Linked DNA regions of Homo sapiens. The protein of the gene in region 5 purifies or fractionates together with the protein of the main gene of each other region. This does not show direct contact. Each region holds a gene or a part of one and is shown on either strand. Other genes may lie near its edges. The genes, in order: MRPL45, SLFN11, GMPS, HBS1L, SPDYE4 and CTSB.

Evidence for each region.
Region 1: the proteins of SPDYE4 (region 5) and MRPL45 purify together in Homo sapiens (affinity purification with mass spectrometry, with the first as the bait; one large-scale study listed by BioGRID). This does not show direct contact.
Region 2: the proteins of SPDYE4 (region 5) and SLFN11 purify together in Homo sapiens (affinity purification with mass spectrometry; one large-scale study listed by BioGRID and IntAct). This does not show direct contact.
Region 3: the proteins of SPDYE4 (region 5) and GMPS purify together in Homo sapiens (affinity purification with mass spectrometry; one large-scale study listed by BioGRID and IntAct). This does not show direct contact.
Region 4: the proteins of SPDYE4 (region 5) and HBS1L purify together in Homo sapiens (affinity purification with mass spectrometry; one large-scale study listed by BioGRID and IntAct). This does not show direct contact.
Region 6: the proteins of SPDYE4 (region 5) and CTSB purify together in Homo sapiens (affinity purification with mass spectrometry; one large-scale study listed by BioGRID and IntAct). This does not show direct contact.

The regions. Positions count from the first base shown.
Region 1 is NC_000017.11:38,298,818-38,304,510, reverse strand, and holds part of MRPL45 (large ribosomal subunit protein mL45), read right to left. Parts: intron 5,161-5,693; coding exon 5,043-5,160; intron 1-5,042.
Region 2 is NC_000017.11:35,348,780-35,354,381, reverse strand, and holds the end of SLFN11 (schlafen family member 11), read left to right. Parts: intron 1-322; coding exon 323-1,046; intron 1,047-1,242; coding exon 1,243-2,026; 3' UTR 2,027-4,077; downstream 4,078-5,602. UniProt on the Homo sapiens protein: Inhibitor of DNA replication that promotes cell death in response to DNA damage. Acts as a guardian of the genome by killing cells with defective replication.
Region 3 is NC_000003.12:155,876,279-155,881,971, reverse strand, and holds part of GMPS (GMP synthase [glutamine-hydrolyzing]), read right to left. Parts: intron 1-5,693. UniProt on the Homo sapiens protein: Catalyzes the conversion of xanthine monophosphate (XMP) to GMP in the presence of glutamine and ATP through an adenyl-XMP intermediate.
Region 4 is NC_000006.12:134,980,490-134,986,182, forward strand, and holds part of HBS1L (HBS1-like protein), read right to left. Parts: coding exon 5,577-5,693; intron 4,921-5,576; coding exon 4,852-4,920; intron 2,074-4,851; coding exon 1,969-2,073; intron 1-1,968. UniProt on the Homo sapiens protein: GTPase component of the Pelota-HBS1L complex, a complex that recognizes stalled ribosomes and triggers the No-Go Decay (NGD) pathway.
Region 5 is NC_000017.11:8,751,628-8,756,417, forward strand, and holds part of SPDYE4 (speedy protein E4), read right to left. Parts: coding exon 4,751-4,790; intron 3,979-4,750; coding exon 3,893-3,978; intron 1,863-3,892; coding exon 1,694-1,862; intron 1,571-1,693; coding exon 1,511-1,570; 3' UTR 1,467-1,510; intron 611-1,466; 3' UTR 1-610.
Region 6 is NC_000008.11:11,857,620-11,861,587, forward strand, and holds part of CTSB (cathepsin B isoform 1 preproprotein), read right to left. Parts: intron 3,861-3,968; exon of another isoform or gene 3,742-3,860; intron 322-3,741; exon of another isoform or gene 239-321; intron 1-238. UniProt on the Homo sapiens protein: Thiol protease which is believed to participate in intracellular degradation and turnover of proteins. Cleaves matrix extracellular phosphoglycoprotein MEPE. Involved in the solubilization of cross-linked TG/thyroglobulin in the thyroid follicle lumen.

The DNA.
Region 1 (5,693 bases), about 30 Mb from region 5:
TATTATTCATTCACTCATTCATTCATTCATTCACTGAGACAGGGTCTCACTCTGTCACCCAGGCTAGAGTACAGTGACGCCATCAGGGCTCACTGCAGCCTTGACCTCTGGGACTCATGCAATCCTCCCACTTCAGACTCCCAAGTAACTGGAACTGCAGGTGTGCACTACCACGCTTGGCTAATTTTCACTTTTTTTTAGTTTTTGTAGAGACAAGGTCTCACTGTGTTGCCCAGCTGGTATTCAACTCCTGCTCAAGTGATCCTCCTGCCTCAGCCTCCCAAAGTGTTGAGATTACAGGCATGACCCACCATGCCCAGACTTTGAGCAGTACTTTTAATTGAGGAAAAAATTATTTCTATCACAGAATTAAATACCTGGGCAAATTATAAATGAAGTGGGAGAATAAAATATTTCTTTTTAGACTTGCAAGATCTTATTTATCCACCATGCAGCCTTTCTCAGGCAGCTGCTAGAAAATGTGCTCCACCAAAGTAATGAAATAGACTATGAAAACATAAAGACATAGGATCCAAGCAACAGGGAATACAACGTAAGAGGGAGGCAATCAGCCTGACCAACATGGTGAAACCCCATTTCTACTAAAAATACAAAAATTAGCTGGGCGTGGTGGCGCACACCTGTAATCCCAGCTACTCAGGAGACTGAGGCAGGAGAATCGCTTGAACCCGGGAGGCGGAAGTTGCAGTGAGCTGAGATCGCACCACTGCACTCCAGCCTGGGCAACAGAGCAAGACTCAGTCTCAAAAAAAAAAGAAAAGAAGACGGAGGCAAGAGGAATCTTAGATCCTAAGACGTACAGTTGGCCTTAAGAGCAACTAGTCCAGATTAAAACAGGTAAGAAGACTCCAGGAGGGATTTCTTGAAAAAGATGAAATTAATAAAATATTTAATGTTGCAGGGCGTGGTGGCTCACACCTGTAATCCTAGCACTTTGGGAGGCTGAGGCAGGTAGATAATGAGGTCAGGAGTTCGAGACCAGCCTGGCCAATATGGTGAAACCCCGTCTGTACTAAAAATACAAAACAGCCAGGTGTGGTGGCACACACCTGTAGTCCCACCTACTGGGGAGGCTAACACAGAAGAATTGCTTGAACCCAGGAGGCAGAGGTTGCAGTGAGCCAAGATCATACCATTGCACTCCAGCCTGGGCAACAGAGTGAGACTCCCTCTCAAAAAAAAAAAAAAAAAAAAAAAAATTTAATGTTTTGAATGCACAGAGAGGAAATTACATAACCCATAGTTCCATAAGCAAATGAGCAAATTAAGACACTACACTTCAGGAAAAAAAAATATATTATGCAGGAAAGAAAAAGTGTTCATAATGTACTATATAACTCAGCTGTCAACAGCATTTTCCAAGTTATAACAATATAGAGAATTTGATTTAATCAAAGTATTAATTTAAGTGTGTTAAAGGAATTTATCCCAGGGATGTGAGGTTGGTTTAATATTTGAAAATCAATTAATAAGGCTGGGCACGGTGCCTCACGCCTGTAATGCCAGCACTTTGGGAGGTCAGGAAGGTGGATCACCTGAGGTCAGGAGTCCAGGCTGGCTAACATGGTGAAACCCTGTCTCTACTAAAAATACAAAAATCAGTGGGGCATGGTGGCGCACACCTGTAGTCTCAGCTACTCGGGAGGCTGAGGCAGGAGAATCACTTGAACCTGGGAGGCAGAGGCTGCAGTGGGCCGAGATGGAGCCACTGCACTCCAGCCTGGGTAACAGAGCAAGACTCCATCTCAAAAAAAAAGAAGAAAAGAAAAGAAAATCAATTAATATGTCATCATATCAACAGAATAAAGAACAAGTATCACATGATCATCTCAATAGACACAAAAAAGCATTTGACAAAATCTGACACCCCTTTATACTCTTTTAACCTCAAAGCCTTGCTTGTACTGTTCTGTTTCCCTAGAATGCTATTCCTCACCACACTTCTCCACCTGGCTAACTCTAAAAAAAAAAAAAAAAAACAAACTTTTTTTTTTTTTTTTTTTGAGATGGAGTCTCACTCTGTTGCCCAGGCTGGAATGCAGTGGTGCAATCTGGGCTCACTGCAACCTCCACCTCCTGGGTTCAACCGATTCTCCTGCCTCAGCCTTCCGAGTAGCTGAGATTACAGGTATGTGCCACCATGCTTGGCTAAATTTTGTATCTTTAGTAGAGATGGGATCTCACCATGTTGGCCAGGCTGGTCTCGAACTCCCGACCTCTCAGGTGATCCACCAGCCTTGGCTTCCCAAAGTGCTGGGATTACAGTTGTGAGCCACCTCATCCAGCCACAATCCCAACTTTAAATATCATTTCCTCAGGCAAGTCTTCTCTGATCTCCCAGACCAAGTTATCTTTTTTTTTTTTTTTTTTTTTGAGACGGAGTCTTGCTCTGTCGCCCAGGCTGGAGTGCAGTGGTGCAATCTCGGCTCACTGCAAGCTCTGCCTCCTGAGTTCACACCATTCTCCGGCCTCAGCCTCCTGAGTAGCTGGGACTACAGGCGCCCACCACCGCACCTGGCTAATTTTTTGTATTTTTAGTAGAGACGGGGTTTCCCTGTGTTAGCCAGGATGGTCTCGATCTCCTGACCTCGTGATCCACCCGCCTCGTCATCCCAAAGCGCTGGGATTACAGGCGTGAGCCACCTCGCCCGGCCATTATCTTTCCCTGTCATATGCTCCCATGGCACTCCTACTTCACTACACCTATAATTATTTGTGTGCGATCAGTATTTAATGACTGTTTTCCTCCCCTAGAAGAGAACTGCATGGTAAAACCGTATGTGCTTTGTTCATCATCACCATGGACCCTGCTCACAGTCCAGGAGAGAAATACATGAGAGGAAACATTGCAGTACAGAGTATTAGGAGAAATAAATACAAGTGTGCAATTACAATCACAGCAAAGGCAGCACCAAAAATAGTCATGGAGGCCTTAGAAACAAACATGATAGCCCAGCGTGGTGGCTCACGCCTGTAATCCCAGCACTTTGGGAGGCCTGAGTCTGGCGGATCACCTGAGGTCGGGAGTTCAAGACCAGCCTGACCAACATGGAGAAACCCCATCTCTATTAAAAATACAAAATTAGCCAGACGTGGTGGCACATGCCTGTAATCCCAGCTACTCGGGAGCTGAGGCAGGAGAATCGCTTCAACCCAGAAGGCAGAGGTTGTGGTGAGCCGAGATTGCACCACTGCACTCCAGCCTGGGCAACAAGAGTAAAACTCCATCTCAAAAAAAGAAGAAAAAAAAAGTAGGAGGGGAAAAAGACATTTCAGGCAAAGGAAAGGATGTGCAAAGACAAAGAGGAATGGTACAGTACTGGCAAGGAATTGGCAATTAGTTTGGAAATGCTAAAATTTAGGATGAGAAAAATGGAATAAGGACAAAGAATGATGGTGGAGAAAAAGGCAAGGACCAGATTATAAAAGCTTTGTATACCACTGAAGATATCTGGATTTTATTCTTTGGTTAACAGGAAGCCATAAAAGAGTTCTAAGCAGGGAGGTAATATGATAAAATCTTTTTTATTATTATTTTTTTTTGAGACAGAGTTTCGCCCTTGTTGCCCAGGCTGGAGTGCAATGGCACGATCTCGGCTCACCGCAACCTCCGCCTCCCGGGTTCAAGCGATTCTCCTGCCTCAGCCTCCTGAGTAGCTGGGATTACAGGCATGTGCCACCACGCCCGGCTAATTTTGCATTTTTAGTAGAGATGAGGTTTCTCCATGTTGGTCGGGCTGGTTTTCGATTCCTGACCTCAGGTGATCCGCCCACCTCAGCCTCCCAAAGTGCTGGGATTACAGACGTGAGCCACCGCACCCAGCCAATAAAATCTATATGTAGAGAAATAAGTCATGGCCATGTGAAGAATTCATACTGACTCAATATACTTATGCACATAAACCTATACATGATTTACATATAGTGACAGCGGCTACTCTGGGCACAGTGGCCTATGGGGTAGCCCTGCTCTGCAATGAACAGTACAAATTTAAAAAAAAAGATAGATACAGTCAGAGCTAGACTGGCTGGGTGTGACGGGTCACACCTGTAATCCCAGAATTTTGGGAGGCTGAGGTGGGAGGACTGCTTGAGCCCAGGAGTTCGAGACCAGCCTGGGCAACATAGTGATAACCCGTCTCTACAAAAATTTCTTTTAAAAATTAGCCAGGTCGGCTGGGCGCAGTGGCTCACGCCTGTAATCCCAGCACTTCAGGAGGCTGAGGTGGGTGGATCACGAGGTCAAGAGATCGAGACCATCTTGGCCAACATGGTGAAACCCCGTCTTTACTAAAAATACAAAAATTAGCTGGGCGTGGTGGCATGCGTCTGTAGTCCAGCTACTCGGGAGGCTGAGGCAGGAGAATCTCTTGAACCCGGGAGGCAGAGGTTGCAGTGAGTTAAGAGTGAAACTCCGTCTCAAAATAAATAAATAAATAAATAAATAAAGGGCTGGGCGTGGTGGCTCTCACCTGTAATCCCAGCACTTTGGGAGGCCAAGGCGGGCCTCCTGAGGTCAGGAGTTCAAGACCAGCCTGACCAACAGACCAACATGGAGAAACCACATCTCTACTAAAAATACAAAATTAGCCGGGCATGGTGGCACATGCCTGTAATCCCAGCTACTCAGGAGGCTGAGGCAGGAGGATCATTTGAATCCAGGAGGCGGAGGTTGCGGTGAGCCAAGATCGTGCCATTGCATTCTAGTCTGGGCAACAAGAGCGAAACTCCATCTCAAAAAAAAAAAAATTAAATATATGATTAAAAAAGGATCCTATACACTCCAAAGTCAACTCCCTAACTGATATGACAAAAATTACCAATAAAGGCAGGGATGCTGAGAATCAGGAAGCCCACATTATTCTGCATTAAATACAGACTCTAGTACAAAGGAGAAAATACCATCATGTTATTAAGAGAATGACACCCAACCCAATTAACCCAAAAAGGTCTCTTTGGGATAAAGTAGCAACAAAAAATTGTTATTCTAATACCAATACCCAATTGTCTCAGACACCTACGACACTTGTGATGCCATAGTCTTCTTCATTCGTTCAGTTCTCTCTATCAGTCCCTCCTTTGAAAGAGATGATATGCGTGCATCACCCTCAGGAGGAACATAGGCATCAAATATACCAGCTGTAATAAAGGAAGAAAAAAATTAAGAAAGTGTTGAAAGATTGAGAAAAACTCATAAAATTGAAGTAATGTAAAATTGGGAAGGATTGTGGATATGAAGTAGACTAATGAAACAGACTTCCATGTAGAGAGAACTATGTTACACTAGAAAAAAACAAAACAAGGCCGGGCACAGTGGCTCACACCTGTAATCCCAGTACTTTGGGAGGCCGAGGCGGGCGGATCACAAAGTCAGGAATTCAAGACCAGCCTGGCCAAGATGGTGAAACCCCATCTCTACTAAAAATACAAAAATTAGCCGGGCATGGTGGCAGGTGCCTGTAATCCCAGCTACTTGGAAGGCTGAGGTAGGAGAATCGCTTGAACCCAGGGGGGCAGAGGTTGCAGTGAGCCCAGATTGTGCCACTGGGCGACAGAACGAGACTCTGTCTCAAAAAACAAAACAAAACAAAACAAAAAAAGCCAGAAAGATTTAAGTCTTCTCTCAGAGCCTCAGTTTCTACTTCCACAAAATGGAGAAATTTCACTCTTGC
Region 2 (5,602 bases), about 27 Mb from region 5:
AAACATTTTATGTTATTTCATTTATTCCTCCTCATAGGAAATGTGCTATTCTTAGTTTTGTTTTACAGATGAGACAGCAAAGTCTTAGGCTAAGGAATTTCCCAAGGTTATAAGTTGTAAAAAACACATGGGTTTAGATGAAGTATACCAGATATTCCAAGGGTTCTTTTCCTTTATAACTATAATATAATAATATTTATAAAATAGTATTTGAAACTTCTATAAGTAATCATTTAGTTAATCAATTAGTTAATTATAATTAGTCATCTTAATCAATAGGGTTATTTCTCTTCCTCTAATTTATCATTCTTTTCACATACAGTCCCACCAGGATATTTGCGATATACTCCAGAGTCACTCTGGAGGGACCTGATCTCAGAGCACAGAGGACTAGAGGAGTTAATAAATAAGCAAATGCAACCTTTCTTTCGGGGAATTTTGATCTTCTCTAGAAGTTGGGCTGTGGACCTGAACTTGCAGGAGAAGCCAGGAGTCATCTGTGATGCTCTGCTGATAGCACAGAACAGCACCCCCATTCTCTACACCATTCTCAGGGAGCAAGATGCAGAGGGCCAGGACTACTGCACTCGCACCGCCTTTACTTTGAAGCAGAAGCTAGTGAACATGGGGGGCTACACCGGGAAGGTGTGTGTCAGGGCCAAGGTCCTCTGCCTGAGTCCTGAGAGCAGCGCAGAGGCCTTGGAGGCTGCAGTGTCTCCGATGGATTACCCTGCGTCCTATAGCCTTGCAGGCACCCAGCACATGGAAGCCCTGCTGCAGTCCCTCGTGATTGTCTTACTCGGCTTCAGGTCTCTCTTGAGTGACCAGCTCGGCTGTGAGGTTTTAAATCTGCTCACAGCCCAGCAGTATGAGATATTCTCCAGAAGCCTCCGCAAGAACAGAGAGTTGTTTGTCCACGGCTTACCTGGCTCAGGGAAGACCATCATGGCCATGAAGATCATGGAGAAGATCAGGAATGTGTTTCACTGTGAGGCACACAGAATTCTCTACGTTTGTGAAAACCAGCCTCTGAGGAACTTTATCAGGTAAGCAGTTGGATCTTACGTCTCTAAGTATTATTTAATCTGGGTTTAATTTTTTCTGCTAAGTCACCGTCTTTCTTGAGAATTGAGTGGTAAAATGATCTGTGGTAATGTACTGTGCTCGGAGGAACATGATACAATTATTTTCTCCCCTTGTTTTTTTAGAGAAAACCTGAGTGTGTTCTTTTAATTTTTACAGTGATAGAAATATCTGCCGAGCAGAGACCCGGAAAACTTTCCTAAGAGAAAACTTTGAACACATTCAACACATCGTCATTGACGAAGCTCAGAATTTCCGTACTGAAGATGGGGACTGGTATGGGAAGGCAAAAAGCATCACTCGGAGAGCAAAGGGTGGCCCAGGAATTCTCTGGATCTTTCTGGATTACTTTCAGACCAGCCACTTGGATTGCAGTGGCCTCCCTCCTCTCTCAGACCAATATCCAAGAGAAGAGCTCACCAGAATAGTTCGCAATGCAGATCCAATAGCCAAGTACTTACAAAAAGAAATGCAAGTAATTAGAAGTAATCCTTCATTTAACATCCCCACTGGGTGCCTCGAGGTATTTCCTGAAGCCGAATGGTCCCAGGGTGTTCAGGGAACCTTACGAATTAAGAAATACTTGACTGTGGAGCAAATAATGACCTGTGTGGCAGACACGTGCAGGCGCTTCTTTGATAGGGGCTATTCTCCAAAGGATGTTGCTGTGCTTGTCAGCACCGCAAAAGAAGTGGAGCACTATAAGTATGAGCTCTTGAAAGCAATGAGGAAGAAAAGGGTGGTGCAGCTCAGTGATGCATGTGATATGTTGGGTGATCACATTGTGTTGGACAGTGTTCGGCGATTCTCAGGCCTGGAAAGGAGCATAGTGTTTGGGATCCATCCAAGGACAGCTGACCCAGCTATCTTACCCAATGTTCTGATCTGTCTGGCTTCCAGGGCAAAACAACACCTGTATATTTTTCCGTGGGGTGGCCATTAGGAAGAACTCCAAATCAAAATGCTATGTAAATGTCTATGGGTGACAGTCTGCTGATGGTAGAAACCTTTCTTTTTAGTTCACAAGTCAGAGATTTGGACGGAGCTGACACAAAGAGTTTGGAGCTCCCCCATTTCTGGCTCTCCTTTCAGGGGTTCCTTCCCCAACCCTTTCAGCAGCGGTGGCTGCCCCCCATTCTGACCCCTGACTCTTCCAGCCAGAAAGATGGTGGTTTTCTAAAGGAACTTTAGCTGTCCTGCACAATGCCGATCTGTGTCTTGCATTTTGGGTAAAAGCCATAAAAATAAGAAACTCAGCCTGTGGCCTTTCTTTCTTCCAAGGCTGGGCTTCTTTTTTTAAGTGACTTCATGCAGTTTGTTGCTTTTAAAAATTTGTCCAGAATCGTTTTCTGCAGAAGCATGGTCTGTTAGGAGCTTACTGGCCGTAGCAGAAGCAATTGTTTCCTGAATTCTTGACATTTATCTTTGCTGTATTCATTTAGGGCTTGGGAGAGTCCGAAGATAATTCAGTCACTGTCAGATTAATAATTTTGTCAGGACAAAGAATACCGTTATGATTATTTAATCCTTTAAAATTGTGGTCTCCAGAGCTTGTTCTCAGAATGGCCCAGACCAAGCCTTAATTGTGATAGTGAATATTAATGGTCACTTTAAGGAGAAATTATAGGCCAAGATGAAATGAACATAAACCTGTTTGCCCTGGCTTTCAGTGGAAGATGATATTAGAGACCAAAATCTGGTTCTGAAGGTGTGTATCAGCCCTAAGGTGAACCAGACTTGGGAAAGATTGTCTTTAAAAATCAATGAGTTTATGTTTTAACTTCTCAGCTTAGTTCTATGCATTGCTCTATAACACACCTAGTTAAGTTTTATGTTATTCTTGAACTGTGATTTTTTTTCTATTTACTTTCATGGTTTGGTGGGCCATTGTTATGGACTGAATGTTTGTGTCCCACCCTTCACCCCCAAATTCCCGTGTTGAAGCCCCAACCTGCACTGTGGAGCTGGGGCTGCTAAGGAAGTAATTAAGGTTACATGAAGTCATGGTGGGGCTCTGATCTGCTAAGGTTGGTGTCCTTATAGGGAGAGACCCCAGAGAGCTTGTTCCCTCCCTCCCTGTGCATGCAAACAAGAGGGCATGGGAGCACACAGAGAGATGGCAGCCACCTACAAGCCAAGAGGAGAAGCCTCACAATCAAACTCTCGCTGCTGGCGAGAGTCTTGGACTCTGTCTTGGACTTCCAGCCTCCAGACTGTGAGAAACAAATTTCTGTTGTTTCAGCTTCTCAGTCTCTGGTGTTTTGTTATTGCAGCCTGAGAACACAGCTGTACGATTATTTGTCAAACAGAAAACACTGATACTTAACAATGCTAATGCAATTATTTATTTGCTTTTCAGTCTCTACAAAACGTTCTAAAACACTAATCTAAATATTAACAGTAAAATATTTGCATAACTAATGGAAACTAAGAAATCATATGACCAATATTTCACTTATTGGTAATCTTACTCTACTGATTTCCCCCCAGACTGTGATTTTTGAACTTCCTTGCCTTTCTCCTGTCTTTCTGTGTTTATTCATGGAATTCCAGTTATCTGGGCTTGAAATTGCAGGCTCTCCTAACTTAAGCAAAATCTGACAGATCAGCAAAATGAGATAAATGTTTCTTTTTTCTTTCTGACTGCATTAAATCAGATACAACTCAGCATTAAAAAGCTATCTTTGTAAATGTTGTTACTAATAAATTAGTCTTATAAGATCCCTGGACTTTGGAGTTGTTGCAATGTCTTTGAGAGTAATTCTTTAAAAGTCTAATTTCGACTGGTTGTATCTCTTTATGATTTATTGCCCCACTAACAATATTTGAAACAATATAATATTTTAAAATGTATAAATAATTATGAATTTTTGTTTAGAACAAAGAGGATTACTGATATTTGTTTCCCTATGAATGGCAAAAGGTTTAGCTTACTACTGCATTTCTGTTTTAAATAAAAAGTTGAGAGTTTGTGTCTCATTAAACTGAAAAAAATGGTCTTGTAAAATAAGTGCTTAAATGGGGGAAAAGGAGAAGACTGAGGCCAGTGACTCTGTGAGAGGGCCAAAACGAGCCAGTAAAAGATTAAGCAACATTAACTTTCAATTTTTTTTTTAAGAGACAAGATCTCACTATGTTGCCCAGGTTGGAATGCAGTAGTGCAATCATAGCTCACTATAGCCTCGAACTCCTGGGCTCAAGTGATCCTCCTGCCTCAGCCTCCGAAATTGCTGGGATTATAGGCATGAGCCAGTGCACTAGACTCAGTTGGGTTTGGATGGGTGCCTGCCCATCTCTGCAATCTGCCTCTAGACATCTGGGACCTACTTCACTAAAGATCTGAAAATCTACCCAGCCATTATAAAATGAAACAAAATGTTTTTATATTTTAAATTAACTTTTTATTTTAGAGTAGTTATAGAATTACAGAAAAAGTTACAAAGATAGTACAGAAAGTTCCTGTGTCCCCTTCATTTAGTTTCCTCTTTATTTTATTTTATTTTATTTTATTTTATTTTATTTTATTTTATTTTATTTTATTTTGACAAGGTCTTGCTCTCTCACCCAGGTTGGAGTACAGTTGGGTGATCACAGCTCACTGCAGCCTTTAACTCCTGGACTCCAGTGATCCTCTCACCCCAACTAGCTGAGAAGCTGGAACTGCAGGTGCATGCCACTACACCTGGCTATTTTTTTAAAAAAATTTTGTAGAGGACGGGGTCTTATTATGTTGCCCAGGCTGGTCTCAAACTCCCAGGCTCAAGCATTCCTCCTGCGTGGGCTTCCTACAGTGCTGGGATTACAAGTGTGAGCCATTGCAGTGGCTATTTCCCTGTTTTATTACTGTATTGTTGTGATGCATTCATCACAACTAAGGAACCAACCTTACTTAGTACATGACTATTAACTAAACCCCACATTTTATTTGGATTCTCCAGTTTTTTTTTTTTTTTTTTTTTTTTTTTTGAGACGGAGTCTTGCTCTGTCGCCCAGGCTGGAGTGCAGTGGCATGATCTCGGCTCACTGCAAGCTCTGCCTCCGGGGTTCACGCCATTCTCCTGCCTCAGCCTCCCGAGTAGCTGGGACTACAGGCGCCCGTCACCACACCTGGCTAATTTTTTGTATTTTTTTAGTAGAGACCGGGTTTCACCGTATTAGCCAGGATGGTCTCGATCTCCTGACCTTGTGATCCGCCCTCCTCGGCCTCCCAAAGTGCTGGGATTACAGGCATGAACCACTGCACCCGGCCTGGATTCTCTAGTTTTTCTCTAATGTCTTTGCCTACTCCAGGATCCCATCCAGGACACCATACTACATTTAGTGGTCATGTTTCCTTACACTCCTCTGACCTGTGATGCTTTATTTTTGATGACCTGGACAGTTCTGAGGAGTACTGGTCAGGTATCTACAAATAAAATGTCCTTCAGTTTGGGTTTGTCTGATTTTTTTCTCAGACTGGGGTTATAGGTTTTCAAGAGGAAGACCACAGGAATGAAGAGGTATTCTCATCACATCACAT
Region 3 (5,693 bases), on a different chromosome or scaffold from region 5:
CTCAGTCTCCCAGGTGGCTGGGACCACCCATGCATGCACCACCATGCCTGGCTAATGTTCTGTATTTTTAGTAGAGACAGGATTTCCTCATGTTGCCCAGGCTGTTCTAAACTCCTGAGCTCAAGTGATATACCCACCTCAGCCTCCCAAAGTGCTGGGATTGCAGGTGTGAGCCACCAGGCCCTGCTGCTTTAAGCAGTCTTAATGTTTCTACTTGCCTCTTAGACTTCTGCCACCATGAGAACATCATGAGTGTACTAGTCTCAGGAAAAGGACAAGATCAAGTGGAGCTGAGCAATGTCAGCTGACCCACAAACTCACGAACAAAAAATAAGTGCTTATGTTTGTATGCCACTTACATTTTGTGATTGTTAATTACCATTACCGTGGCAATAGCTAACTGAAATGCCACAGTACAATTTTAAAAATTAGTATCATCATATGCCTTTGTGAAGATGTTTCTACCACCAGCTTAAGTAACATTTAAAAAACTAATATCAAGCCAGGAGCAGTGGCTCACGCCTGTAACCCCAGCACTTTGGGAAGCCAAGGAGGGCAGATCACCTAAGGTTGGGAGTTTGAGACCAGCCTGACCAACATGGAGAAACCCTGTCTGTACTAAAAATACAAAATTAGCCGGGCATGGTGGCACACGCCTGTAATCCCAGCTACTTGGGAGGCTGAAGCAGGAGAATCGCTTGAACCCGGGATGCAGAGGTTGTGGTGAGCCGAGATCATGCCATTGCATTCCGCCCTGGGCAACAATAGCAAAACTCCGTCTCAAAAAAAAAAAAAAAAAAAAAAAAACTAATATCAAAGCATCCATAGCAGGCTCTTAATTATTAACATACTTTGTCAAAACATCACATTGTACCCCATAAATATATACAATAAATATTAATAACATATTTTGATTCTGCCTTTGCTAACAGAAATACATAAGAATGTAAGTAAAACTGTACCAAATGTCTATAATTATGGTCATCTCTCGGTGACTTTGTCTTTATGATAAACATTACACTGATTCTTTGGCTTTAGACATTAAAATACAAACGCACACTTATTTTTTTCTTTTTAATAAGAGGGTAACTAATGAAGGAAAGACATCAGAGAAAAGAAACCACTGAGAAGCACTATTAACCTCTAGAGAGCCAGACGTGGTTAACCCAAGATGTACCACCTTAGGCAAGATAATATGCCTAACAGACAAACCGACAGAGATTTTCTTAATAACTGAAAAAAGTTTTAACTTAAAAATACTGCACCAATACCAAGTTTGCATTTTTTAAAAACAACTTTGTTAAATCCAGAGTGCTTCTGATTCTATTTATTGTTCAAGGGAATGTTGTGAGTGACAGAAATGTTCTATATCTTGATTGGGGTGATGGTTACATGAGTACATATATATGTCAAAACTCAACTACATACTTAAAGATCTATGCACTTCACTGCATGTACATTTTACCACAATAAAAACAAGCAAAACAAAACACCTATTAGTGAGTTTTTTAAACTACCACCTCTCTCCACAAACTGACACTAAAGATACAAAACTGATACAAAAAGATACTACCACAATGAGCAACTGTTACCCTCAGCCTTCAGGGGCACTCATGGTCAAGCTCTGCCATGGTCAATAACAAGGCCAACAATCATCCAAATCTAAGAGCCAGTCTGTTAAAAAACCCTAAGTCAGATTAAACCCACCTTAGAAAAGATACAAAAATTATCTCAAAATGAAACAAAGACATAAATAAGAGCAAAAACTACAAAACTTTTATAAGAAAACATAGGTAATTACACAAATCTTTGTGATATGTATTGAATGAGGCCAACAGTTTTTTAGATGACACCAAAAACAAAAGTGACAAAAGAAGAAATAAATTAAGCCTCAAAATTAAAGGTTTTGGTGCTTCAAAGAACACCATTAAGAAAGTGTAAAAAGATAATCTACAGAATGGCAGAAAATAATCGCAAATCATATTGATAAGAAACATCTCTAGACTTAAAAAAAAAAAACTCTTAAAACTCAATAAAAAAGAAAAATAATCCAATTTTAAAATGGGCAAAAGAATTAGCTGGGCATGGTGGCAGGCGCCTGAAATCCCAGCTACTCAGGAGGCTGAGGCAGGAGAATTGCTTGAACCCAGGAGGTGGAGGTTGCAGTGAGCTGAGATCACACCACTGCACTCCAGCCCGGGGAACAGTGCGAGACTCCGCCTCAAAAAAAAAAAAAAAAAAGGGCAAAAAAGACCTGAACAGACATTTCTCCAAAGAAAATACAGAAATGGCCAATAAGCACATGAAAAAATGCACATAACCAGTCATTAGGGAAATGCAAATCATAGCCAAAATGAGATCCCACTTCACAGCTACTCTGATGGCTATAATCAAAAAGACAAGTGGGTCAGGCGTGGTAGCTCATGCCTGTAATCCCAGCACTTTGAGAGGCCAAGGCAGGCAGATCACCTGAGATCAGGAGTTCGAGGCCAGCCTGACCAACGTGGGAAAACTTCAACTCTACTAAAAGTACAAAAATTAGCCAGTGTGGTGGCGCATGCCTGTAATCCCAGCTACTTGGGAGGCTGAGGTGGGAGAATCGTTTGAACTGGGGAGGTGGAGGTTGCAGTGAGCTGAGATAGCACCACTGCAGTCCAGCCTGGGCGACAGAGACTCTGTCTCAGGAAAAAAAAAAAAAAAAAAAAAGACAAGTGCAGAAAAGGATGTGGAGAAATTGTGATGGCTAATTTCAGGTACGAACTTGACCAGACTAATAATACCCAGATAGCTAGTAAAGGATTATTTCTGGGTATGTCTCTGAGGGTGTTTCCAGGAGAGACTGGCATTTGAATCAGTAGACACAGAAAGGAAGATCCACCCTCATCCAATGTGAGCAGGCATTATCCAATAGCTGAGGCTAGGGCAGAACAAAGTCAAGGCAGGGGAAAGTCAAATTATCTCCCTTCTGGAGCTAGGACACCTTCTGCCCTTGTATATAAGAATTTCAGGATATGGCCTTCGGATTCCAGGACTTGCACCAGCAGCCACTCTCCCATCACCCTCCCCCCATCCCTCTCCCACCAAGGTTCTCAGGCCTTCAGACTCACACTGAGAATTACACCATGGACTCCCGATTCTCAGGTCTTTGGACTTACACTAAGTAATGCTACCAGCTTGGTAGGTTCTCCAGCCTGCAGACAGTCTATCGTGGGACTTCTCAGCCTCCATAATCGCGTCAGCCAATTCCCCTAACAAATTTCCTCTCATATATCTCTCTATATATATATCTATTATCTATTTCTCTATCTATAGCCTACTGTTTTTCTGGAGAATCCTGACATAAACTGCCACACAGCAGACAAAAATATAAAATGTTGCAGCTGCTTTGGAAAACAGTCTGACAGTTCACTAAAAGGTTAAACGGAGTCACTCTATGACCCAGAAATTCCACTCCTAGGTTTATACTCAAGAGCATGAAAACTTTTGTCTAGATAAAAACTTATACAGAAATGTCCATGGCAGCATTATTCATAATATTCAGAGTGAAAACAACCCAATGTTCATCAACTGATAAGTGGATAAATATAAGGTGGTATACATACAATGGAATATTAGCAGGTAATAAAAAGGAATAAAGTACTTATACATGCTACAAGATGAACCTTGAAAGCATTATGCTAAGTGAAAGCCACAAAACACCATATATTTTAAGATTCTAGTCACAAAATGTCCAAAATAGGTGCTACGGTCTGAATGTTTGTGTCCCCCTAAAATTCATATGTTGAAACCTAATCACCAATGTGATAATATTAAGAGGTGAGGTCTTTGGGAGGTGGTTAGAGCATGAGGGCAGAGCCCACACGGATAGGATTAGTACCCTTATAAAAGAGGCCCTAGGGGCTGGGCACGGTGGCTCATGCCTGTAATTCTAACACTTTGGGAGGCCAAGGCAGGCGGATCACCTGAGGTCAGGAGCTCATGACCAGCCTGGTCAACATAGCAAAACCCCGTTGCTACTAAAAATACAAAAATTAGCTGGGCATGGTGGCGCATGCCCAGCTACTCGGGAGGCTGAAGAAGAAGAATGGCTTGAATCCAGGAGGTGGAGGTTGCAGTGAGCTGAGATCGCGCCACTGTACTAGCGAGACTCTGTCTCAAAAAAAAAAAAAAAAAAGGCCCCAAGGTGAGGACACAGCATCAAGCACTTCTATGACCCAGGAAGTGGGCCCTCACCAGGCACTGAATCTGCAGGTCCCTTGATTTTGAACTTCTCAGCGTTCAGAATTGTGAGAAATTTTTGTTGTTCATAAGCCACTCAGTTTCTGGTATTTTGTTTTAGCGGCCCCAACAGACTAAGACAATTGGCAAATCTACAGACAGAAAATGAATTTGTGGTTGACTAGGACTGGGAGGGAGCGGTGGTTGCAGGAAAATGGGGACCCTTGCTGAAGGGTAGAGGTTTTTTTTTGGGAGGAGGGATGAGAATGTTTTTTTGACTGTACAAATGGGGGGTGATGGTTGTACAAATCTGTGAATACACTAAGAACTATGGGGTTGGATACTTTAAGCAGAGTACATGGTATGTCAATTATATCTCAATAAAGCTGTTATAAAAATTTTTTTAGGAAAAGTAAATGGTAGAATCCAGATTGAGGACATGGATGTTGACTAAAATTTCTTTTAATTTGCTTGCCAAATAATAAGTATAATGAAGTTCTACTGCTACCAATAACATCAAAATAATGATATATCTACAGGTACTTTTGTTCATCTAAAATTTCCCAAATTAATCAGAGATCGTTGATCCAAAATTTGTCCAAAGCAGAATTTTAGAAATCTGGAGTCCTAAATTTACATTCATAATAGGATTCAGAAGAATTACTGAGACTCGTTCTCCAAATTGCAAATGAGGTAGAAATTAAATTTACATGGACCGCTGTGAGTTTTGAGATTAAAAGGTTACTGTTTTTCCAGTGACAAACGGGAGTAACTAAACAGAAAACTTCACATGTCCAGGCAGCTTTAAAGGTTTGGGAAACATCCCTTGCAAGTGTTATGGCAGACTAGAGAAGATTATTTTACCTTAGGGTCAGGTTCAGTGCTGCTGGCTCACACCACTTTTAAAACACAGGTAATTAATGACACTCAGTTTTCAAGAATTTTAGAATAATACTCTTATTATATAATTAACTCAGAAAAATAATGCTAATGTATACACACTAGACTTAAATTTTAGCCAAATTTTAAATACACATCACTGGGGAGAAATCAGAGCCAAACTCAGAACAATATGTGCTCTATAAATGGAGTGACCATATGGTCCAGTCTGCCCAGGACTCTCCTGATGTACATCTGTTAGTCCGATATCCCACCCAGCTTAACATTTGTCTCAGATTTTTCTTTTTAACAACATACTATGAATAACTGCCTTAAAGTAAAATAGGACGGGTTTGTTAAACTTTCACCTTATATCTAATACCACCTTCGGCTATGGCTTTGTCTAGTGTTGTGTGGGTTGCAAGCATAGTAAACAGTTCTCATTTTTAACTTCTCGTTCAGTCTGAATGCCAAATACTGGTAACACATCCTTCCTTACTCTTTTCTAATAAAATCAAGTACTCTTGGACACAGGCAATTAAGGATAGCTAACTCTATCTAGTCTTGGGTGATGACAGGAGAAATATCTGAAGTTG
Region 4 (5,693 bases), on a different chromosome or scaffold from region 5:
ATGAAATATGGGATTAAAAACAGAAGCTAGGTATTTACACACAATAGAGATTGACTTTGGCTTAAACATTTGTAGATGTTTTATACTACAAGTTCAATTAACAGTATAAAATTTTCCAAAGGTAATTATATTCTCTGGTTCTTCTTCCCCTCAATCATGTTACACTGTTCCACATATGACATTTATCAAAAAACTTTTCTCATTGGACAAACATTACAAAAAGAGGCTCTTTTTTAATACTCTATGAGCTTGATATGTTAATAAAGTAAAAAAAAAAAAGTAATTTAGAATTTCTATTTGTTGGTAGTAGATTCAGTCAAGTCTTTCTTTTGGGACAGTACTGGTTAAAGAGCCACAGTAGTACCTAAAAATGTTTAGACAGAACAGTGCTTTCAAGAATCAAGTAAACCAAGCAAAAGCAGTAAGGTTAGAATGGAGGAAGGAGAACCTCTCTGTTGAGTTAAAAGACTGGCTCTCAAGAAGTAGGGTGGTTCTTCCCTGGGGCTTCTGATAAGACTTACACTGATAAAAGATAATACTTTAGAGTTTCTCTGTGTGGAAAGTACAGAGAAGAGGAGGGTAAAGAATGTGAGACTTTCAGAGATGACTAAGGATTTTAGAGGTTACAAGGGAGCCAACCTCAAGGTCTGTGATAACTTTAGGATCATGGTTTTAATTTATGGCTCTTAATCATAAAAAAATTCTTGTTCTCAAAAAAGATCATTAACATACCAAAAAAATCGTGTTTCAAAAGTATTATAGCTCTTGTCACTTTAAAAAACAAAAGCAGAGACCTGTACTTGCACACAATGAACAGATCTATAGAAAATGACACTATTTTTAAAGTGCATATTACTTTTTATCAAAACTGAAATTTCATGATCTCTAGTGGGCACAAATAAAAAGGTCAAATGGAAATAACTGATTTTCATTCCCTTATTCATCTTTAAATATAGGTTAAACCATGTAACTTCAATAGATATTAATTTCTTAAACTTTTCAAGAAATCTTCTTTTAAAGAGAGCATATGAATTCAAGAAAAATATACATTCAAATTGATAAACTAGTCAGGTACAACTCTAGATATAAACTATAAATTAAGAGTAACAGAGGGAAAAATACTAAAATCTAAAAAATTTTTGCATTTCCAATAGGTTATACTTCAGCTTAAAATGGTTACAAATAATATTATTTTATAGTATAAAACAGATCTTCAGAAGTCAGAGGCTTAGTTGGAAGCCAGAATAAAAGAGGTATAGAATTAGAAAGTTTTAGTCAAAATCTGGAAAATAATATACATGTACATGTAACATATAACATGTATACATATACATAAATATATATATGTGTGTATATATTAGAAGACAGAAACAATTATCAGTCATTATGAAAAAAATTAGATCTATATGCAGAAACAGTGACTGGCAATTTAAACTAGTTCAATTTCTCTTTTCAACATTGGGTTTTTCTCCATTTGAATGTTACTTATATCTTCCTATAAAATATACCTACATTTTTGGCATAAACATGATCAAAGCTGTTAATTTATAGTTATTCTGAAACATACATTTCAAAGTAACAGACTGTAGAAGGCTGCTTTGCCACTGACTAGTTAGGGTAAGGCTGGGACTAGATTTAATTTCTGCTACAGAATATTATTCCAAATACATCTGTGAGGTATCTATACATATCTGATTAAATCCTAACCAGGCTTCTCAGATCTGTGTCAAAAATAGAATGCTACTACAGTTAGAATGTTTATGTACATATATATACAGACACAATCACAACAGAAAAAAATCGTTTAATGTTTTCACATTTTAATCTTCAACAGTCAGTATCATTTTGACAGTCAGTTACAATTTCAGTAAGAGGTTACTTACTTTGGAGTTGTAACTAAACCACTTTTTAAAAATCTGCTGTCTCAACTTAAGGCTTGTTTAGCAAAAGCATCTTGCAGATAAATACCTTTCACGGTACAAGTTTCATTAGGAGGCATTGCCAGTAGTCGGTCACCAGTTTGGATATAACCAGCTTCTATTTTACCAGTTATGCAAAATCCAGATCCTTGATCTGCAAAACATACCAAAATCTTATGGTTCATACAGCAATGTTATCTGATGATTAATACCGTTAACTATACTTAGTTCTCAAGTAGTCATATAAAACTAGTAGTTCAATGGACATTAAATAATAATCATTTCAGAATTAACATCTCTACTAAATATGGCATACCACACTTTACTTTTTTTTTTTGCAAATAAAAATACTCATATTACCAAAGAAAGGTTCATTCCTTTCTCAAATATTTATTGAGAAATAATAAATACGTAGTACCAGATATTATACTAAACTCTGGGGATAAAAAAAAATAAAAATGTAAGTCCCTGCCCATAAAGATATTATACTAGTGAAGAGAAAGATGGAAACAATTACATTGTCCTGAGACAAATAATATGTAAAATATACAATAGAAACACAAAGGTGCACCAAAGAATCCATGATGGTGAGAATAGACATCTGGCACTCTGAAGAAGGAATAAGTGTTTATTAGGTAGCTTGTATGCATGAGTAGGGAGAAAAAGGAAGACACTGCTGCCCCAGGAAACTGTGTGGGCAAAGGCATAACCAAATGTGGGATGGGCTAAGAGTCATGTGTCACTTGTGGGGGCCATGGGGAGGGGACCATATAGAATAATGAAGAAAAGGTAAGACAGGAGGCAACAGAGATAGGCAAGGGAGAAATAATAAAGGGGTCTCATAAATCACGCTTAGGGTTTAAATTTCATCCTGCAGTTAAGTAATAGGAAGCCAGTAAATATTGTGACCGGAGAAGTAAGGTGATGGTATTTCTGTCTTAGAGTAGAGGCTGATACAAATGCACAAACTTACTACAGAAAGGGAATAAACTCAAGAATTCGGGAATAAGGAATAACAAGTTTGGAGTGGTAAGGAAAGTGAAGACTAATGACAGAAAGGGGAAAATGTGAGATGATGATGCATTAACTGTGAGATATGAAACTAAGGACAAGATCCATTTTAGGCTTGGTAAATCTGAAGTGTCTATGAGACACACACATGCAGAAGTTGCATTCCGGGGGGACCAATCACACCACATTCCATGAGAATGGTACCCCTAAAAGAACACTCTCCCAGGAGAGATGTCCAGTAGTGCTTAGACAAGTGTGTGGAGAATGAGTGAAAAGGTTTGGGTTGGAGATACAGATTTGGGAAGCATCAAGATGCAGAAGGTAGAGACACTCATGGATGTCAGTTCAAAAGGAACTTGAAGACTAAGAAGAGGACTGAGGCAGCAGAACACTGTTTAAAAGACAGAGAATGAGGAGCCCATAGAGAAGATATAGAGAGGTCAGAGATAGACAGGTCAGAGAAATAGACAGGTTAACAGGAGAAAGCAGGTCACAGAAACCAAGGGAGGAGTTTCAAGGTGGATGTGGCTACCAGCATCAGAACCAATGCCAAATTCAAGTAAGATAGAATTGAAAGTGTATATTGACTTTGGCAACCAAGAGGTCATTTCATGACCTCAGGAGGAACACACTCAGGAGAGCAGCGTAGGCGGAAGCCAGGAAGCAGCCTGAAGGGGGAACAGAAGGTGAGAAAGTACAGTCAGCAAACACTGTTAATCAAAGAAAAGTAACCACCTCTTGTATTCTTGATAAACAATGGGCATCTTGGAAACTATTAGCATATTTCCTCTATTACTAGAACACTGGAAGCTAATAATGATAATGATAAATTTTGATTTCATTGCATGATTTTTTCAAAGCACCTTCATTCATTCATTTTTTTATTCATGTGTTAAATGTATTATGTGCCAGGCACTGGGCTAGGGCCGCAGATATAGATAAAGAAGAGATAGTACTTGCCTTCAAGGAGTTCATAATCTAAGTGGGATAAACAGACAGCATAGAAAAAATTATAATGCTGCATGAAAGCACAATGACAGAGGATACAGAGAATACAGAGGGACGCGTCAGGGCATGTGCGCAGGTAAGCACGCCGGTTACCAATTTACTGCTGCTCAGTTCCACATTCACTCTGCATTGCTGGCTCTGTGACAATGGAGATTTAGAGGACAAATGACATCCTTACAGTTTTTATTATTGTAATAATAAATCTTATATCCTTTTATTTATTGAGTTTTTAAATTGTATTTCCACTTTATAGTCTTCTATATAGGATCTTGCCCTTATTAAGTTAGATATATTCTTAGGTATTTAATATATCATCTCTTCCAGCAAGCTCTGAACCTCTTCTACGTTGGTCCTTCCTCAGCCCTATCTATAAAGTTTCTGTATATCTTTTAGTTGCATTTTTATCATAGTTAATAATTCTTTATATTACATTTCCCATTTCACCTATGTATGGTATCTAACTCCTAACTGGACCCAGACTGTTACAGATGGGGAGGAAATGGACAAGTAAAGAGAAAGAACAATACAACAGGGAAGCACGGGTAGACATGTGGCAATAAACACATCCTGTGTGGTTAAGAAACAATAAACAATCCAGTTTGGTTGAAGGATTTGAAAACTAAAGGAATCTAATGGGAGAAAAAAAAACTATAAAGTTAGAAAGACAAAAGGCAAGGTTTTCTTATGCTTGAAAGATGAGAAATGGTGAGTAAACTGAAGGTTTTCCTGGACAGGGAAGCTAAGTGACTAAATCTGTGCATTTTAAGATTAATCTGACAGTGATCCTTACTTGGGCATGGAGAGGAGAGACTCTGAAGGCAATATACTGTCATAACTTAGTCCAGGAAAGGAGGTTAGGAGGGAATGGGGAAAAGGGGCTATACTGAAGAAGCACTACAAAGGTAGCACTTACCTTTGAAAACATCGGACACACATAATCTAAAAGGTTTGTCAATAGATCGCTGGGGAGGCTTAAAGGAATCTGGAAAAAAGAAATTGCAAAAGGCAAGGTTTAATTTAAAATTAAATTTTTGACTCACTTCAATAAACTCATTATAATCCCACTTCTCCTAGAAAATAACTACTTTTTATAATTACTAATAGCAACTTAACTGTCACTAATATACACATTGAGCATCCCAAATCCAAAATTCTGAAATCTGAAATGCTCCAAAATCTGAAACTTTTTGAGCACTGATATAATGCTCAAAGGAAATGCTCATTGGAGCATTTTGGATTTCAGATTTCTGAATTTGGGCTGTTCAACTAATAAGTATAATGTAAATATTCCAAAATCCAAAAAAAAAATTTCAGACCCCAAACACTTTGGGTCCCAAGCATTTCGGATAAGGGACATTCAACCAAGTAATAGTTGCAGCTTATAAAATGAATGTTAATCTCATTTAATTTTAACAACAGTCTATAAGATATGTAAACCAGGCACTAGCCTCATAAACTGAGGAAAACTGAGCACTAGACAGGTTAAGTATTGCACATGATGACAAAACAGGTAACTTAGTTCCTCCGACTACAAATCCTATGCTTTTTCATACGTGTGACTCTCTCCCATAAAGAACTCTAAATAATAATTAATACCAAGTTTATAATGCATTAAAGCTAGAATGGCAGTATACTTACCAATTTGTTCTAATAAACATAGTCCTTTATACCATTTTGTGAGTTCACTTGACTGAGATCTTGTGATTAGATTTTCACCACTGAGACCACTTGTAGGAATAAAACCTACATCACTCT
Region 5 (4,790 bases):
AAAAGAATCCTCTCTTAAAAATGAAAACTAAATTATATTTATGTGTATATAACAACCGTCAGAGAACTCTATAGGAACAGCATGTTTTCAAAACTACAAAAACCCCAAACTATTTTAAATCAACCTAGTAATAATTCTATGGCCAACATTTGAAAAATAAACCAACAAAATGTACAGTATCTATTAAACTATCTCTTAAAATCCTATGGCAGTAATTTCATATTTTACAAAGAATTCCGTAACAATCTGAGTGCCTGCGCTGTGCCTTCAAATGCTCTGGACTGTGGCAACCAAGTCCATAGGAAACAGGAACTCCAGCTTCCAGCCCAGGGGAGGCTGGGATTCAGCAACGTGAAAAGGGAGGTTTTGCCGCAGGAAGGGGTGGAACCAGAAACACCCCTGGTTTCTCACTTTCCCTCCACTGACTCCTAGAAATACCTCCATGGCTCCTAGGAGGAAAACCTGGTCAATCTATTTTGCCCCTTCTAGAAGAGTCCAGCTTCTTCTAGATGATCTGCACAGGAGGCTCCTCTCTCCCTTCCTGGTGTCTGGCATTAGCGTCGCGATAAACTTCCTGCTGAAAATTCCCATCTCCCCTGGGCCCAGTGTTCTGGAAGTGAGAGAGAGGATGTCACACTTCAAGGAGGGAGATCTCTAGATAGGAAGGTTATTCCCATCCCACATCAATCCTAACTAGAGTTCAGAGCAATATATAAATCTGATTTTATCTCTAACCCTTTATTGTAAACCCTGATTCTGAACCATCATTTTTGATTCTGGTACTCACACTTTGGTGAGCTTGACTCCAAAAATCACTTAATATACCCAAGGTTAGCCCCAGTGATCTGCTTCATAGCAAGGACTTTGGGTGGCTCCACCCAGGGAGTAGAGCACCCTTGGAGGACGTGGCTTTGGACTTCATCACACTTGGGGCCCTTTATATTGCTTAAGATCTAAACTTTTAACCATGCTACAAACATGTCTAACACGACAACCTCAGGAACCAGCAGACCAGATTCCTAATCCCCAACCTTAATCTCTCATGTTTTAGTCTAATGCTTGGTCCTAAATGTGGTTAGCTGCACAAGATGTCAACCAAATCTTCACTGAATCCTTTCCTCAAATCAGTAACTCAAGTGTATCAACCATAATGAACCTCCCTGGACCTAGGTAGTATTCTCATTTTTGAGAAAGAGTGTCACTCTGTCGTCCCGGCTGGAGTGCAGTGGCAGAATCACAGCTCACTGCAGCCCCGACCTCCGGGGCTCTGGTGTTCCTTCCGCCTCAGGCTCCTGAGTAGTGGGGACTAGAGGCGCCCACCAGGACGCCCGGCTAATTTTTGTATTTTTGTGGAGACGGGGTGTCGCCATGTTGACCAGGCTTGAAGCTGGATCAAGCAGTTGAGTTCCTTGGATTTTCTTATAGATGAGAATATTCTGCCTTTACCCTGGAGGATACACACGTACCTTCCCTCAGGCCGATGACCTCAGGCCTCCATGTCCCCGGAGCTCTAGGAAATGAGGGTGCGATCTCGGGCCCACACCCAGTGCTCTGGGTCATAAGCCTGGATCTGGAAAAACACACACCACTTGAGAAGCCAGGGATTCCCCAGGAAGCCCCCTCTCTGCCCTCCTCCAGCCTCCAGTCCACCCCATCCCTCCCCACCCCCACCTCCTCATATGGCCCCACCTACCTCCTCCATCTCCTCTGGGGAAACCCACGTCCTCCAGCGCATGGAACAGAGGAGCTGGTATCGAAGCTTATGGAACAAGGGTCGCTGGGAGTAGTTCTTCCCGTAGAGGAAGGAGAAGATGTCTTGTTTCGGGGCCTGGTTGTCCTCCTCCATGTCACTGGCCAGGTAGCTGGGGAGAGAGATCAGGTTGCTGCTCAGGGGCCCCACCAGGAGGGACCCCTGCCTGAGGGCAGCCTCTCAGAGAGGAGGGCAGGGGACCTTCCTCAGCTCAGCACCAACAGCCGCCCTGCAGAGAGCCCTGCCTTCCTCAGGAGGCCCCGCTGGACAGAGACCTGCTAAGGGTGCCTCTCAAACCTTCAGGAAGGAGATGATCCAAGTGGTAGCTGGGAGTGGTGGCTCTTGCTTGGAATCCCAGCACTTTGGGAGTCCAGGCAGGAGGATCACTGGAGGCCAGGAGTTAGGGACCAGTCTGGGTAATATGGCAAGACCCCCTCTGAATTTAAAAACAACCCAAGTCTTATGCTAAGGATGTGTCCTGCCATCCTTATACAAGACAGATGACGTCACCTCATCCTAGTCCCCATCCCTGTTCCTCCCACACCCCCCTTCCTTGTCATGTATGCACACACCTGTCTTCCCCCGTGCATCATAAGTGCCCCCAAGGACAGGAACTGACTGGTGTGTTTCTGTAAATCATCTCTCACCTACCAAAAGGCCACTAGAGGGCTTTGTTTATCTTGGTGCATTAATTCAACAAGCATTGCTGTGAACTCTCCCTTCCCATCCTTCCTATTCCCTGGCACATATGATGAACTTCATAAGGTTTTGTTGAATAAATGAATACATGAATGAATGAAGGAAAGAAGGAAAGATTTATCTTATAGGCAAATGCCATATGAATTATTCCATAGAGTCAATATAACATGAGCACTTGCAAAATGAAAAGAATTGTGCTGAGTGTTTCAGGAATACTTTGATATTTTGGCTGATTGGGTGGCTCATGTCTATAATACCAGCACTCTGAGAGGCTGAGGTGAGAACCCAGGAGTTCCAGAACAGCCTGGGTGACATAGCAAAACGTCATCTCTACTAAAAATCATAAAAACTGGCTAGATGTGGTGGCATGCACCTGTAGTCCCAGCTACTCAGGAGGCTGAGGTGGGAGCTTCACTAGAGCCTAGGAGATGGAGGCTGCGGTGAGCTATGATCTGGCTACTGCACTCCAGCCTGAGGGACAGAGCAAGTCTCTGTCCGGTAAAGATAAAAACAAAAAACTTTGATATTTTGACAAGACCCTGCCTTCAACAGGGGTCTACTCTGATGGGTTTGGGGAAAAGGAGGGCAGATAAACGAATCCAAAATGTCACATTATCCTAGGATGTCACTAAAGTGCTGTGGGCGTGCAGAAGCTGGAAGATCAGGGGAGGCATTGCAAAGGCTGTGGGGTTGAACTGACTTTAAGGAATGGGTCATTCCCTTCAGATCCACATGTGTGCAGGACACCCAGACAGAAAACACAAAATCAAAATGGAGTGGAGGGCATTTGGAAGGAGTGGCGAAAGCAAACAAGGAAAGATGAAGATGGTGGGCAGGTTTGGTGGTAGAAGGACTGCAGAGAGGGTTGAATTAGCCCTGTGGACCCGGGCCTCCGTTTAGAGACAAATCAGCTAAGGAGGTTGTTCAGGTGGGCAGTGAAGGGGGGGTGGGAGCTGTGCTTTGGAAAGCTATTCAGGCAGCACTAGGAAGCCCCCTGGCTTGGGGCAGGACTCGCAGGAATGCCCAGCAGGGAGTATTTGATGATGGATCTGTGTTATGCGAGGACGACCTGAATTTCTGCCTCTGTCATGGGAACCTGGAGAAGGAGGATGGAAAATTGCATTTGGTGTTGATATGGGAAGGAGAGAGACGAGAGAACCAGAAATGGCTGCTTGCTTGGGGAGCAGGGTCGTGTCCACGGCTTTCCTTTCCCCTTAGGACGGGTTTATGTTTCCTTTTGTTTGATTCTACTATTTGTCAACTGCATTTGTGTTTGTTTTTAGAAAGAACAGACTAAGAACACCATAGTATAATCTTATCGTTTTTATATACAGAGTAAAGAGGAGAAGTAGGGTAAAAAAATAGATGGAAGGTTGGAATCCCACTTCGTCCACTGTCCCAGGGTGTTGGATATTGACAGATGGGAAGAAGCAAACTACTCACAGAGCCAGGAAGAAATGAATGCGTTGGTATTGCCACGAGAAGAGGCCGGCACGGCTAAAATACGCTATGACCATAGCCAGGAGATACTGATGGAGAGAAGGGAGTAGAGAGAGAGAAAGGTTGGTCACATCCTGGAAGAGGAAGATGGTGGAGAGAAGGGAACAGGGGCTGGGGCGCGGTTGTCTATCACAGAAGGAACCTCAGTGTTGGGTGACTATGCTCATTGGGGGCTTGCGGGTGGAGAGTGTTCAAAGTCAGCTGCAAATCCGGGAAGTCGGAGGGAGGGAGGTCTGTGATGCTCCCATGATGATGAGCTCCAGTGGGATCACTGGAGGGAGAGTGTCTAGGGCTGCTAATGTCAGGAGGGTCTTGGTGAGCTGGGGCAAAGGACTGTCCCAAAGATCTGAGAGGATAGGGGTCAGGAGTTTCAAGACTGGCCCAGGGCCTGGATTCCAAAGGACCCTGTGCAGAGGCAGGGGCCACCCATCAACTATGCAACAGGCTACCAGAGCCCCGAGGGAGATGCTGACAAATTATGAGAAGACCTAGAATAGCTGGGGGCGGTGACTCACGCCTGGAGTCCCAGCTATTGGAGAGGCCGAGGCGGGAGGATCACTTGAGCCCAGGAGGCTGAGGCTGCAGTGAGCTATGATGGCAACACTGCATTCCAGCCTGGGCAACAGAACGAGACCCTGTTTCTGAAAAAATAAAAATCAAAATGTGGGCGCCCAAGAGTATGGAATCAGCAGGTGGGAGATGGTAGAGGGAGAGAGGAGAGAAACTGTGGGTTTAGACGCTGCACCCTTCCCCAGGACGTGTGTTAAAGCAGGAACACAGTTGAGTGGAGAACAACCTTACCTTGTCTGACACCCTCAGGTCTTTGTCCCAGGCCAGGAAT
Region 6 (3,968 bases), on a different chromosome or scaffold from region 5:
CTCCTGGAGGACAACCTGCCGTGGCCATTCCCTGGAGTCCCACAGGGCCCCCTCGCCACTTCACTAGCAGGCGACTTCCCTGCACCCGCCCTCCTTTTCATGGTTCCCAGGCCCTCCCACACCTCCCTGTGCTCCCTACTCATTCCCAGGCTCCCCGGGGCCACCGCTGCCAGCCCCAGGGCCCAGCCCATTCCACTAGTCCCAGGCTGAGCGCTGGGAAGTTCTTTCAGCCCCGCACCTTGGCCCAGGGCTGTGGTGTTCCTGGCTTCTCTGCTCCTCCCCTATGGTATCCAGGTTGGGGCTCAAGGGGCCGCCAGCGTGCTGCAACCGGACGATAAAATGAGCCCTGCACTTGGAGTCAGGAGACCTGCATTTGGATCTGGCTCTGCCACTGACTAAATGGCACCCTTGGGGTCTGACCTTCCCCAAGCCTCAGTTTCACCACCTATAAAATGGAGCTAGTAACCATCGTGTCTCAGGTGGCAGTCAAGAATGAAATGAGGAGGACCAAAGCGCCGGCACATGCCTGGCATGCAGTGATAAGGTAGGAAGGGCACTCGCTCCAGCGGGCTCTGTTCCCTCCCTCTCTCCTCTAACACTTCTAGCTCTCAGTTCACACTAAACCTATTCCAATAGGTCCCCAACGCCAGGAAGAGTCTAAATGAAAACAAGTTTGTTTTTTTTGTTTGTTTTAAGACAGGATCTCACTCTGTTGCCCAGGCTGGAGTGCAGTGGCACGATCATGGCTCACTGCAAACTCTGCCTCCTGGGCTCAAGAGATCTGCTCCCCTCAGCCTCCTAAGGAGCTGGGACTACAGGCATACACCACTACGCCCAGCTTTGTATTTTTTGTAGAGATGGGGTTTTGCTATGTTGCCCAGGCTGGTCTCAAACTCCTGGACTCAAGTGATCTGCCCGCCTTGGCCTCCCAAAGTGTCGGGATTATAGGTGTGAGCCACCATGCCCAGTAAAACAAGCTCTTAACTTCAATTAACCCCAGCATTTAACATCCAAAAATGCTTCCACTCTTGAGGGTCCCGAGACTGCTGAGAACTCAAAAAGTGTCAAGCCAAACACAGAGGTCCTGACAGCAGTGGCAATCTCACTCCATTGTGCAACAGGCGCCTTTCTCTCCACAACAACGCAAATCTCAATCACTCTGGACAAATGCAGATGGTGAAAGTGACAAGCTGAGCTGTTAACAGCTTTCCAGGGTCTTTGCATGGGACAGCAACCCATTTTCACTTCCCTTTATATAGGCACCCACTTCCCTTTTATTTCTTAATTCTGTGCTTTCTGCTCTGCTTCTTACAAGAGATGATGAACACAAAGTCCTTATTTCACGAGGGAAGGATGTGAACTCTTGTGTGCCACAAGACCCCTTTCCAGGATGCGGGCTGGTGGAAGAACAGCTGCGAGCAGATGTCATCTCTAGACCTTGGTCTGCTGTGCTGCTTAGGCAGACCTGAGTTCCAGTGCACCCCTCTGCCCCTTTTCCAAGCTAATCTTTGGGTTAAAAAAAACAGAAAAGGGTGCTCCTCATATCCTCTCTCTCCAAACCTGCAGAGCACTTATGAGAAAGCACGCTCCACCCCGGCTCTGTAGAACGTTGTTATGTGCCAAAAAGAGTGTGCGGCCAGGCGACTCTATCAACCAGAGCACCTTCCTCCCCCGGCAAACGGCACCCTAGACTACCTTGAAGCCGTTTCCAGGACAAATAGGGACCTTGCGATCCTGGAAGGAGGTGGAATGAAAGTCAAAGGAGAGGAGGTGCGGCTAAGTCACAGGAGGTGTTAAGTCCTGACACCCTTAAAGAATCAGTTTTGGGCTGCCACCAAGCTCAATAAAGAAGGCTTTCTGGCCAGGCACAGTGGCTCATGCCTGTAATCCCAGCGCTTTGGGAGGTCAAGGCAGGCGGATCACCTGAGGTCAGGAGTTCGAGACCAGCCTGTCTCTACTAAACAAGGTGAAACTCCTGTCTCTACTAAAAATACAAAAATTAGCCAGGCACGGTGGTGGGTGCCTGTAATCCCACCTACTTGGGAGGCTGAGGCAGGAGAATCACTTGAATCCAGGAAGCGGAGGTTGCAGTAAGCTGAGGTCACACCACTGCACTCCAGCCTGGGCAACAGAGCGAGACTCTGTCTCAAAAAAAAAAAAAAAAAAAAAAAAAGGCCGGACACAATGGCTCACGCATGTAATCCCAGCACTTTGGGAGGCTGAGGCAGGCGGATCACGAGGTCAGGAGTTCAAGACCAGCCTGGCCAACATGGTGAAACCCTGTCTCTACTAAAAATACAAAACTCAGCCGGGCATGGTGGTGCTGCCTGTAGTCCCAGCTACTCAGGAAGCTGAGGCAGGAAAATTGCTTGAACCCAGGAGGCAGAGGTTGCAGTGAGCCAAGATCACACCACTGCACTCCAGCCTGGGCGACAGAGCAACACTCTGTCTCAGAGAAAAAAAAAGAAAGAAAAAGCTTTCTTACATGGTCACAGAGCCCTCAGGTAGACTGCACTTTAAATCTGTAAAGGATTTAAGGAGACAGGATATGTACACTTAAAATTTCCAAATAAGCCAAGTTGCTAGCTCCTGGCTGATAGACAAAAAAAGTGAAAGAATTCTTAGCAAAGCTGTCATGCAGTATTTTGCTCTTCCTCATTCGTTGGTGCTGTGGCTATACTGCTGGCTCCTCTCATAGTCAGCTCTAAAGAATTGAAAGTTGGCCGGGCACAGTGGCACACACCTGTAATCCCAGCACTTTGGGAGGCCAAGGAGGTGGATCACCTGAGGTCAGGAGTTCGAGACCAGCCTGGCTAACATGGTGAAATCCCATTTCTACTAAAAATACAAAAAATTAGCCAGGCGTGGTGGTTGTGCACCTATAATCCCAACTACTCGGGAGGCTGAAGCAGGACAATTGCTTGAACCCAGGAGGTGGAGGCTGCAGTGGGCTGAGATCGCACCATTGCACTCCACCTTGGGCAACAAGAGGGAAACTCCGTCTCAAAAAAACAAAACAAAACAAAACAAAAACAAAAGTCAAGTGCTTACATTTTGCCAGAAGCCACAAATGAAGACTGTGCCTTATAGGCCAGCAGAGCGGCTAAGAGCACGGGAACAGTGGAAAGGTGGGGAGACTGTGAAGGCTCAGTAAGACCTTCCCAGAGTACTTTGTTTCTTTCTCTTCTATAAAAACTAGTCTTGGCACTCACCGCTAATAACGGCAGTTGCTCCTGAAGTTTTGACCACTTAAGTGCAACCACAAAACAAGACTTCGGCGAGTTTCATCTTCCCCTACTTCAACCTGCCAGACACACCTCAATGCTGGAGCAGCCCTGCACTGGGTGGGAGTGTGCTGACCTCAACTATGCTCTGTTGTGACCCAGAGACCTTTCCTTTTTGAGTATGAATCACAGCCTTGCTGTGGCCTCTGATGTGTTACGTCTTTGCCCCTAATGGAACTGTGTTTAGTAGATTCTTGGCTTATGATTAAATTAAGGACAAAAACAAAATCCAAAGGGCTCTCAGGCCTCGGTCTCATCAGTCCCCTGATGAACGGGCACCAGAGGCCCATCTGTCCCATGGAGCAGGCTCCCTGCAGCTGTAGCCCCGAAGCAACTGAAAACCTGTCAGAAAACCCACCCAGCACACAGGTGTGCAGAGGCAGCAGTGATGCTCACCAGCCTTGGAGGCTTCCAGGGAACCAGGGGAAGCAGAGAAGCCCCACTCCACCTCCCTCACCTGAACCAGGTTGGCCACTCACAGGTCCTTCCCCGTGCTGCCCACCTGCCAATCATCTATGCAAACCAGGTACTGCAGGCCCAGCCCACGCAAGCTGCTCTCCATAGGCCTGAAGACACCTATGAGTGGAATATTGTACAAGGTCAGCCACAGCAACCCCACATCCTGCAGACAAAATGACTACTGTACACTTGAAACAGCAGACACTACGAAGGCCCTCAGCAGTT